Linked DNA regions of Homo sapiens: region 1 is linked to region 2. The links come from fine-mapping of genetic effects on gene expression. A gene starts in region 2. The other region holds a variant in brackets. All regions are shown on one strand. Distances are between the middles of the regions. Region 1 has its middle 44 kb from the start of ZNF157. Region 2 holds the start of UBA1 (ubiquitin like modifier activating enzyme 1).

What was found.
Region 1: its variant is fine-mapped to the expression of UBA1 in tibial nerve (GTEx, PIP above 0.99).

The regions. Positions count from the first base shown.
Region 1 is chrX:47,323,650-47,329,027 of GRCh38, forward strand. No RefSeq gene overlaps it. Among named protein-coding and RNA genes, the nearest start is that of ZNF157, 44 kb to the right of the region's middle. The variant T/C (reference allele first, on the strand shown) is at 2,708.
Region 2 is chrX:47,190,751-47,196,128 of GRCh38, forward strand. UBA1 (ubiquitin like modifier activating enzyme 1) reads left to right here and starts at 3,079. Exons shown (of 26, transcript NM_003334.4): 1 at 3,079-3,274. RefSeq lists enhancers at 134-183, 214-263, 244-784, 2,982-3,161 and silencers at 2,919-3,107, 3,202-3,351.

The DNA of each region.
Region 1 (5,378 bases), 130 kb after region 2:
CTAAAAATACAAAATTAGCCAGGCATGGTGGCACATGCCTGTAATCCCAGCTACTCAGGAGGCTGAGGCAGGAGAATCACTTGAACCCGGGAGGTGGAGGTTGCGGTGAGCTGAGATCGCGCCATTGCACTCCAGTCTGGGCAACAAGAAGGAAACTCCATCTCAAAATAAATAAATAAATAAATACAACCCAACCGGGGGATGGGAGAGGGAGAGCATTAGGAGATATACCTAATGTAAATGACAAGTTAATGGGTGCAGCACACCAACATGGCACATGTATACATATGTAACAAACCTGCACATTGTGTACATGTACCCTAGAAGTTAAAGTACATTAAAAATATATATATATATATATATATATATATATATATATAAAATACAACCCAACCAAAAACAGTTCACATATGTGTTGGTTGTGTGCCCTTGAGAAATTTCCTTAGCTTCTCTGTTTGTCAACACCATGGAGATAATAACAGTATGGGGTTTTTGTAAAATATAGTGTGTATGTAAAGTCCTGGTCCTTGCTTTGTAGTAAATGTTCAATACATGTCAGCAACTTATCAGAAAAAGGCATGGAAGGACATTGCCAATCGAGAAAAATGATAAGACAAGTCTCAATCATTTTAGGTTTATTTGCCAAAGCTAAGGAAGTGCGCCCATGACACAGCCTCAGGAAGTCCTAATGACATGTGCCCAAGGTGATTGGGACACAGCTTGGTTTTATACATTTTAGGGAGACATGAGACATCAGTCAATATATGTAAGAAGTACACTAGTTTCATGCAGAAAGACAGGGACAACTCTTGAAGCTGGGAGGGGGCTTCCAGGTCACAGGCAGGTGAGAGAGAAATGGTTGCATTCTTTTGGTTTCTGATAAGCCTTTCCAAAGGAGGCAATCAGAATATGCATTAATTTCAGTGAGCAGAGGGATGACTTCGAATAGAATGAGACAGATTTGCCCTGAGCAGTTACCAGCTTGAAGGGGCTGAAGATATTTTCCTTTCACAACATAAACCAGGATGCAGAAGCTGGTTACCAGGTGGAAGGAGGAAAGAAAACAAAATAACATTAAAATAGATAGCTGTGAAAAATCATTATAATAGCATAAATATTATGATCCACTTTGGTAGAATTACGTGTGTGTGTGTAGTGCTAACTGTACAGTGGTAGGATTTCAAGTCATTAATAATTTTTTCTTTTTTTCTTTTTCTTTTTCTTTCTTTTTTTTTTTTTTTTTTTAATATGGAGTCTTGCTCTGTCACCCAGGCTGGAATGCAGTGGCATAATCTCAGCTCACTGCATGCAACCTCTGCCTCCCAGGTTCAAGTGATTCTCCTGCCTTAGCCTCCCAAGTAGCTGGGATTATGGGTGCATGCCACCACACCCGGCTAATTTTGTGTTTTTAGTAGAGATGGAGATTCGCCATGTTGGTCAGGCTGGTCTCGAACTCCTGACCTCCAGTGATCCACCTGACTCAGCCTCCCAAAGTGCTGGGATTACAGGCGTGAACCATTGCACTTGGCCTTTTTATTTTTATTTTTCTTTCTTTCTTGTTTTTTTTTTTTTTTGAGATAGAGTCTCGCTCTGTCACCCAGGCTGGAGTGCAATAGTGCGATTTCGGCTCACTGTAACCTCTGCCTCCCAGGTTCAAGTGATTCTCCTGCCTTAGCCTCCCAAGTAGCCGGGATTACAGGCGTCCGCCGCCATGCCCAGCTAATTTTTTGTATTTTTAATAGGGATGGCGTTATGCCATGATGGCCAGGCTGGTCTCAGAGTCCTGACCTCAGGTGATCTGCCTGCCTTGGCCTTCCAAAGTGCTGGAATCACAAGCGTGAGACACCGCGTCCAGCCCCAAACCATTTGAAAGTTAGCTGCACACAGTAATACCTTTCAATTCTAAATAATTCTAAATAATTCCCTAATATTCTAAATACTTCCCTAATATTGCTTAATATCCAGTCCATATTTAATTTTCCCCAGTTGTCCTATACATCTTTTTTTTTTTTTTTTTTTTTTTTTTGAGACGAAGTCTCACTTTGTTGCCCAAGCTGGAGTGCAGTGGCGAGATCTCGGCTGACTGCAACCTTCACCTCTCGGGTTCAAGCGGTTCTCCTGCCTCAGCCTCCCGAGTAGCTGGGACTACAGACATGTGCCACCATGCCTGGCAAATTTTTGTATGTTTAGTAGAGACAGGGTTTCACTATGTTGACCAGGCTGGTCTTGAACTCCTGACCTTGTGATCCGCCCCCCTCGGTCTCCCAAAGTGCTGGGATTACAGGCATGAGCCACTGCGCCCGGCTCCCATACATCTTTTATAACTTTTTTAAAACACAAGACTAAGTCCAGGCTCATTTATTCCATACGGTTGCACCTCTTTAGTCTGTTAAACTAAAACAGTGTGTTCATTTTATTTTTATTAATTAATTATTTGTTTTTTCAGACGGAGCCTCCCTTTTGTCATCCAGGTTGGAGTGCAGTGGCACGATATGGCTCAATGCAACCTCTGCCTCCTGGGCTCAAGCGATTCTCTTGCCTCAGCCTCCCAAACAGCTGGGACTATAGGCACCCACCACCATGCCCGGCTAATTTTTGTATTTTTAGTAGAGAGAGGGTTTCGCCATGTTGGCCAGGTTGGTCTCGAACTCCTGACCTCAGGAGATCCACCTGCCTTGGCCTCCCAAAGTGCTGGGATTATAGGCAG[T/C]GTGTTCATTTTAAATATGCCGACCCCCAGCACTTAAAGACGCCTGTAATCCCAGCATTTTAGGAGGCTAAGGCAGGAGAATCACTTGAGTTCAGGAGTTTGAGATCAGCCTGGACAGCATAGTGAGACCCCCTTCAATCTCTACAAAAATAAAAATAAAAATATTAGGCAGGCATGGTGGCAGTGTTTTGTTTTGTTTTGTTTTGTTTTGTTTTTGAGACAAGGTTTCACTCTGTCACCCAGGCTTGAGTGCAGCAATGCAATCTCAGCTCTCTGTAGCCTTGGCCTCCCAGACTCAGATGATCCTCCCATCTCAGCCTCCTGGCAGATCACTTGAGACTGGGAGTTCAAGACCAGCCTGGGCAACATAGCAACACCACCTCTTGATTATAACATTATTACTTTTTGAAAAATGCCACCAGTTCATGTATTTAGACAACTTTATCACTATTGCTCAGGGGAAAAGCCTGTCTTGGTCTAGGAGAATTCCACAGAACATACTTTTATTTGGTAAAGTGGGAAATTCTAGGATCTGGTAGTGCATTAATCTAGTTACCAAAATGATACCACTCATACCACGCTTGGATTAGTAACTTTTCAAATAATTTGGAAACAAACAAAAAAACCGTTTAACATTAAAATTGAAAATAATTCCAACTTTGTTTCACTTGAAGAAGGCGGGTCCCAATCCTGTTGTGTTGCCAGTGTCCACGTTCCAGCTTTTTGCTAATCAACAAAGCCATCCTTTCTGTCTCACAAACTGTTCCCTGGACGTTTCACAATCTTTGTTGCACGCATTAGGGCTTTGTGGGTGATGATAAAAAGGGGATGTTTTGTTTCGTTTTATCATTAGGACCTTTAAAAGAGTAGCAAGTTATTCTGCTGGACTTCCCAAAATGTAGCTGGGAAGAACAATATAGCCGATCAAAAGCTGAAAATTACTTTCAAGGACTCAGGAAGGGAACGTGTGGTACGTGCTGCATGGTATCTGTTAAAATAGCCACTGTGCTGAAATCCCTTTGTGGGGAAAGGTAGAGATTTTTACAAATTCAAGACAAAATGTTACTTCTCTGGGTATGACCACAGTAACAAGGACACAGAAAAATAGGTCAGAACCAGAGGAAAGATGGGGTTATCTGTCCTGAGAATCAAAGCCTCCTATGGATCCTCACTCTGAGAGTGCCTGGGAATAAGAAGCTGAGTTTCATTGACAGCAGCAGGAAGTGCAGAGTGAGAAAAGCAGGAAGAAAGTTCTAGTAGCCACAGAAGTTAGTTGCTTTGACCACGGGCATGATACCAGAATTTCAGAAGTGACAGAAAAAGCAGGCAGACAGATGGCAGAGATGTTTGCTGGAACCCTCAAGCCCTAAGGAAGAGTCTTGATTATGTTATCATCACTTCTGAACACTTTAGTGACCATAGCTTTCAGTCTGTGAGGAAAAGCCCTGCTGGCCTTTGAGACTGGTGTGAGGGACTGTCCTGCTCTGGGAAATGTGGGAGGGCTAAATCGGAAAAGCCCAGGCAGGGTTTCTCTGGGCCACATTGGAAGAAGAATTGTTTTGGGCCACACGTAAAATGCACTAATACTAATGATAGCTGATGAGCTAAAAAACAAAACAAAAAAAACAAAAAAAAACCACAAAACATCTCATAATGTTTTATTTTAAGAAAGTGTTGGGCCACATTCAAAGCCGTTCTGGGTCACATACGACCTGCAGGCTGAGGGTTGCACAAGCTTGGCCTAGGGTTTCTTGGTGAGATGAAAGCTGTGATGGGGCTATTGAAGCCTAAAGCATCATTTTTCACTGTTGTTTTGGAGGGTAACCAATTAGCATTTTCTGCGTGGTTGTTTGGGCATCACAAGAAAAGGGCTTCTGAGAAAGCCCCGGCTCCTGGGACAACAGCACAGGTCACACCTTCAACCTCCAGCCCCTGCAATGCGCAAGGAGAGAACAATCATGCTTCCTGTGGCCATATTGGCACGATTGTTCCAACACCTTTATCACGGGCCATGGGTCACGGAGGGTCTCGGGCCCTGTCTGGCTCCTTCTTAGAATGCACATTTTCACAGCTCATGGGGCAGGTGCTGGTGAAACTGGCCCCTTCCCCAGGGAGCACTGATGCATTTCTAATACCAGGATGAAAACCAGTGCCAGGCCATGGAGACAAGCGATTTCTCAAATGCTGATGTCTTGCAGATGTAGTGGCCTGAATCTAGTTTTTTTTTTTTTTGAGACTGAGTTTCGCTCTGGAGTGCAGTGGCTGGAGTGCAGTGGCTCGATCTTGGCTCACTGCAACCTCTGCCTCCCAGGTTCAAGCAATTCTCTTGCCTCAGCCACCCGAGTAGCTGGAACTACAGGCATGTGCCACTACACCCAGCTAATTTTTGTATTTTTAGTAGAGACGGGGTTTCACCATGTTGGTTAGTCAGGAGGGTCTCAATCTCTTGACCTCCTGATCCGCCCGCCTCAGCCTCCCAAAGTGCTGGGATTACAGGCTGAGGCACTGCGCCGGCCTTTTTTTTTTTTTTTTTTAAGAGACATGGTCTGGCTATGTTGCCCAGGCTGGGGCACAGTGGTGTGACCTTGGCTCACTGCAGCCTTGACCTCCTGGGCTCAGGCAATAATTCTCCCACCTCAGCCTCCAGAGTAGCTGGGACTACAGGCACATG
Region 2 (5,378 bases):
GACGCGGGAGCAGGGACTGACGCCCCTCTAGCAAAGCATCTGTGGTACATCCCAGACCCGGGGCTCTCCAAGGCCCCGCGCTTCCGAGCTCCGCGCAAACTCTGGCTTCTCTTGTACGACAGAGGTGGTTTGCTCTTCCGTTGCCCCGTGGCTTCAGCTCATCTTTGGCAGGAAGGCGAGGCTTCCGCCCGGCACAGGGGGTGAGCTGGAGCACCGTGCCCCCAAGCCTCTGGACAGCATTTGGAGGAGGGTGCTTCCCTAATCCCAACTTCGGGGAAACCCCTCATGGGCGTATTTGGAGCCTCCGGGCCCGGGGTGATATTTAGGGGGCGTCTGCTTTTGAGACCCTTAAGGGGTGCCGTTTGGGGACTTCGGGGTGGGATTTGGGAGTCTGTTTCGGGGAGCACCCCTCGGAGGCAGGGTTTGGGGGGCTTTGGGGAGATTCTTAGGGTCCGTGTATGGGCACCCTTGTCCGTGGAGCAGGATTTGGGTTATTCTTCAAGGGGAGAAGCAAAGCTTGAGGTTACTAAAGTCAAGGCGGGACTGGGGGAGGGCTTGTTTCAGGACGGGGTCCTGGTGACAGAACAATCGGGACCGACGTGGCATTGTGGAGGTGTCAGGCCTTTGTGACCTCTGGTTTTGTGATGAGGTCCTCCCCGCGCCTGGAGGCTCAGGACTGCGAGACTGGACACGTCGGGGGCCCAGATGTTTCTAGGGAGAGGAGCCTCCCAGCTCAGGCTAGGGAAGGGACACCGGAGCCCAGCTCTTCCTGAGCTGACGAGGCGCCACCCGGCCTTTATTCATTATTCATAATAAGGTGGGGCTGTGGTAGGCGGCAGTTTTTTTGCCTCTTTCGCACCTGGTCCGCTGAAGGTTCTCGGCTTGTGAATTATTCACGAGGGGCGGATCAGCGTGCCGAAGGGACGTGCTGAAGGGGCGTTCTGAAGTCTGCCGCGCAAACGAGTTCATTGATGATTCGCAAAAGTTAAGTAGCACCCTGAGTTTTCAGTGGCTTTTCTAGGGGTTCCGTGCTTAATTCATGAGGAGCGTGGCTTTTGCAGCTTTGTCTGCGTGATCCGCGGTTAGCTTTCCCTTGCAGGTACCAGAGTTAAAACCTGGCGTCTAGCAAAGGGATGAGGCCTCCTACATTGTTCATTTCTTATGGCCTGGTAATCCCAGATAATCAGCCGGCTCTGGATTCAAATCCCATCGATCCTTTCCAGTTGTGTGATCTTTGGCAAATCGTTTTGTAAGCCTGAATAATGGGTATGAGGATAACGATAAGATTAGCTTACACTCGTTTAGCTACTTAGCGCATTTAATCTTCACGACAATCCTAGGAGGTAGGTCATTATTACCCCCACTTTATAGATAAGGAAACTGGGACACAGGAAGGCTAAGTAATTTGCCTAAGGTCACACAATCAGTGAGTGGCTGGGCCGGGATTCAAATTGGGGTCTAGTTCCGCAATCTGTAGTCTTAACCAGATGCCATAATGTCTCCCCTCCCCATTCCCCTGCGCCGCCATTTGATAGTACTACTACTACTAATATAACACTTAGCATGTGCCAGGCACTGGTCTAAGCCCTTTCTACTTATTTCTTCATTTAAACTCCATCGCAAGGTAAGTTGCTGTTATTCCTATTTTATGGATGGGGAAGCAGTGGCCCAAGTTGGGGGTTTCTCTAGTGGCTGAGTATTCATAACTAATTTTATATTAATGTAAATATATATTTACATATCTTAACATATTACTTTTATATTAATATATAATATTTTAAAAATTTAACAGTGCCTTGTGCCAGCAATGTTCTAAGGCTCATCCCATAATTTATATTCTCTGATTTTCTTTTGTTTGAGACGGAGTTTCTCTCTTGTCGCCCAAGCTGGAGTGCAATGGCGCGATCTCGGCTGACTGCAACCTCTGCTTCCCGAGTTCAAGCGATTCTCCTGCCTCAGCCTCCCCAGTAGCTGGGATTACAGGCGCCCGCCAACATGCCCAGCTAATTTTTGTATTTTTAGTAGAGACAGGGTTTCACCATCTTGGCCAGGCTGGTCTCCAATTCCTGACCTCAGGTGATCCACCCGCCTCGGCCTCCTAAAGTGCTGGGATTACAGGCGTCATCTGATTTTCATAATAACACATTACTATCCTCATTTTACAGTTGTGGAAACTGAGGCACCTGCCAAAGACATGTAGTGAGTTTGGGTTTGATTGGACCAAGGCAGCCCTTGTTCCTGAGGCGGGGAGAATGGAGGGAGGCGTGGAGAGGGGAGGTGGGGGCAGGGAGTACACGTCCCCTGGGTTTTCTGGTGGCACTGCAGTGACATCTTTCATTATTCATGAACAGGAAGGCGTGCTCACTTTGCCTTGGCTATAGCATCGTAATCCCTATTTGCTGGGCAGGGCAGTCTTGGGTGTTTCTTCGCCTTATGCATAATTCATAAATTGGGTGGAACCTTTCTTGACCTCTCTGAGTTTCCAGGTTGAGCTACTGCAGCAGCATAATTCATTATTCAGGACCTGGGAGAGTGTGTTTTCCCTGCAGCAGCCCCATTTCCCTGCTTACAGTGTATTAGATGCAGCAATAGGCGGGCGTGCCCCTTTTATTCCAACCCACTGGGCCTCATGCATTATTCATGAGTAAGTTGTGGCCTGGGTCTCCTTGGCTTCCGGGCCCCTGCAAGATCATCATTATTCATGAATGGGGGTGTGTGGCTTCCATGTTTTAACATCTGCTTTCTGGTTGCTGGTTGTTAGTCTACCAACCACTCAACTTCATGCATAACTTATAATCAGGAAGCATGGCCTTAACGGTTTTTCTTCGCTTCCTTGACAGCCTGGCTGCAACAATTCATTCATTAGTCGCATTCCATGAGGCGTGGCCTCTGTTTTACCTGTTTTCGTTGTTACTGCCACAATGTCCACCAGGTGGTGCTGTTCCACTTCTAACCGAATGAATCGCAACCGAGTAGGGAACTTTATGCATGATTCATAAGTAGGCGCGGCCCGCTTGCATCCGGGTTTCTGGGGGTGGGGCCCAAGGTTTTGTTCCGGCCCCAGGCTCAGCGTCCGCCATCTTGTGTCGGCGGCTCGGCTGTAAGGAGGTGGCAGGGACAACCACAACCACAACGGCCGGGGGAGGAGAAGGCGGCAGCGGCGATTCTAGGCGGCCCAGGCGGCGGGGAGGAGGAGAAGGAGGAGGGTGGCGGCCGGGCTTGGCTTCGGCTCCTTGAGGAGTTGGCGGCGGCGCGACCCGGGGAACCGGCATTGGTAAAAAAACGTCCTTTCACTGCGCCTCGCCCTGGGCAGGGGTTTCGGGGAGGCACTGGAGGGCCCTGAGCCACGCTGCTGTCGGGGCGGGCCGCGGTGACTCGGGAGCCAGGAATCAGCGGAGTAGGGAGGGGGAGCGGATCCTGGGGCGGGGCCGACTTTCCCCGGCCAGGACCACTCCGGCTCCCTCTGGTTGCAAAATCTGACCTTGGAGTCGGACCCCCAGGATGTGCTTTTAGAGACTCACGCCCAACATCTCTAGTCTGGGACCTGACTCCGTCCCGAACCTTGTATCTCAGATCAGAACTCTTCCCCAGTCTCCAATAGAGATTTACGTGGATCAGCATTGCTGATCAGAGCTCCTCACCATTGAATGCCGTTAAAGACCTGCCCCAGAATCTCCTTTGAGACACTTCCTAGCTTCTCAGTATTTGTCCTCAAGGCTTCCAGGACGGGCTAGATCTCGAAGGGGTCCATAGGCCCTTTATCTCTGTAAGAGAGTCCTCTTTAGCATTTTCCTTCAGACCCCCATCCCACACACATGCTAGCCGCGCTCAGAGCTTCCAGGGGTACTAGACCCTGTGAAAGGCCATTTGGGCCTGGCCTTTGTGTCGGGGGCCCCTCTTCGCCACACGTCAGGTCTCCTAACCCCACCCTGGCCCTAGCATCTTCCATCAGAGACTCTGCCCAGTATTTCTACTCAGAGACCCCTCTTACCATCTGCCTTGAGAGACTCTTCAATTCCTAGACTCTGTCCTTTGACACTTTCTCTACTTTTATGGAATTTCTCGCTTTTTATACTTCCAGTATTCAGAGACTACTGAGAGGCCTCAGCATCTTCCCCATCAGGCACCTTGAACCCCCAGAGCCTTCCAGTGCACCAGATACCAGGGAGGAACTGTTTGGATACATAATCCTCCATCAAAGAGCCCCTGCGAGCATCTGCTCTTGCAGATCCCGTTGGCTTCTAGCCCCTTCCATCAGAGACTCGCCTCCCCAACCCCACCCTAGACCCAGCCTCTGCCTTCAAAAACCAACCTGGGTTCTAGCTGCTTTTTTCACAGATCCCTTATCCTCACATCAGGCCTCAGAATCTGCCCTCAGATCGTTTCAAGGTCCCTAACGTCTGCAGTCAGGGGTTTTCAGCTTCTGCTTTCAGCCTCCTTGGACCCCAGGATCATTGTCAGATGTCCCTTCCCCCCACAGGCCTTCTTGTTTTCTTTTTCTTTTTCTTTTTTCCGAGACAGAATTGTTTCACTATGTCGTCCAGGCTGGAGTGCAGTGGCGCCATCTCAGCTCACTGCAACCTCCACCTCCTGGGTTCAAGCGATTCTCCTGCCTCAGCCTCCCGAGTAGCTGGGATTACAGGCATGCACCACCACGCCTGGCTAATTTTTTGTATTTTTAGTAGAGATGGGGTTTCACCATATTGCCCAGGCTGGTCTCGAACTCCTGACCTCAGGTGATCCACCTGCCTCGGCCTCCCAAAGTGCTGGGATTGCAGGCGTGAGCCACCGCGCCTGGCCATGGCCCTCTTGTTTTCTACTGCAGTAGAAAACCCTCTTCTCAGCATCTACCTTCAGCGCCTCCATGGGGTCCTACATAATTGGTCAGAGAAACCCAACCCCATTTGGGGACCTAGCCAGTGTTTGCTTATTAACCTTTTTAAGGCCTGCACTATCTGGGCCCAGCTTCCCGTTTCCACACCCTCAGAGCAGCTGTGATACCTAGCATGTCCTGTCAGAGATTGACACAGGGCCTTTGTGTTCCATTAGAAACCTCTCCCAGCCCCTCACCATCCACCCTCACAGCCTCCTGGGACTCTGTAGTAGGAATGTCAGATACACCTCTCCTCTTGCATGTCCCTATCTATTATTTTTGGTTAAAGATTTCTCTCTGCTACCAGCATCTGTCTCCAGAGTCCTCCAGAGCCTCAACATCCTCCTGATGGAGGCTGCCTCTCCCCCCAGACCCCAACATCTTCCTGCTGCCTCCTCAGACTCTAGAATCCCCCACCCATTCCCTTTGCAGCTTCCATGGGGCCCAGCAACTGTCCTCCTACCTCCTTGCAGCCTTGGGGGCCTCCACTGCAATTTTTCAGCCT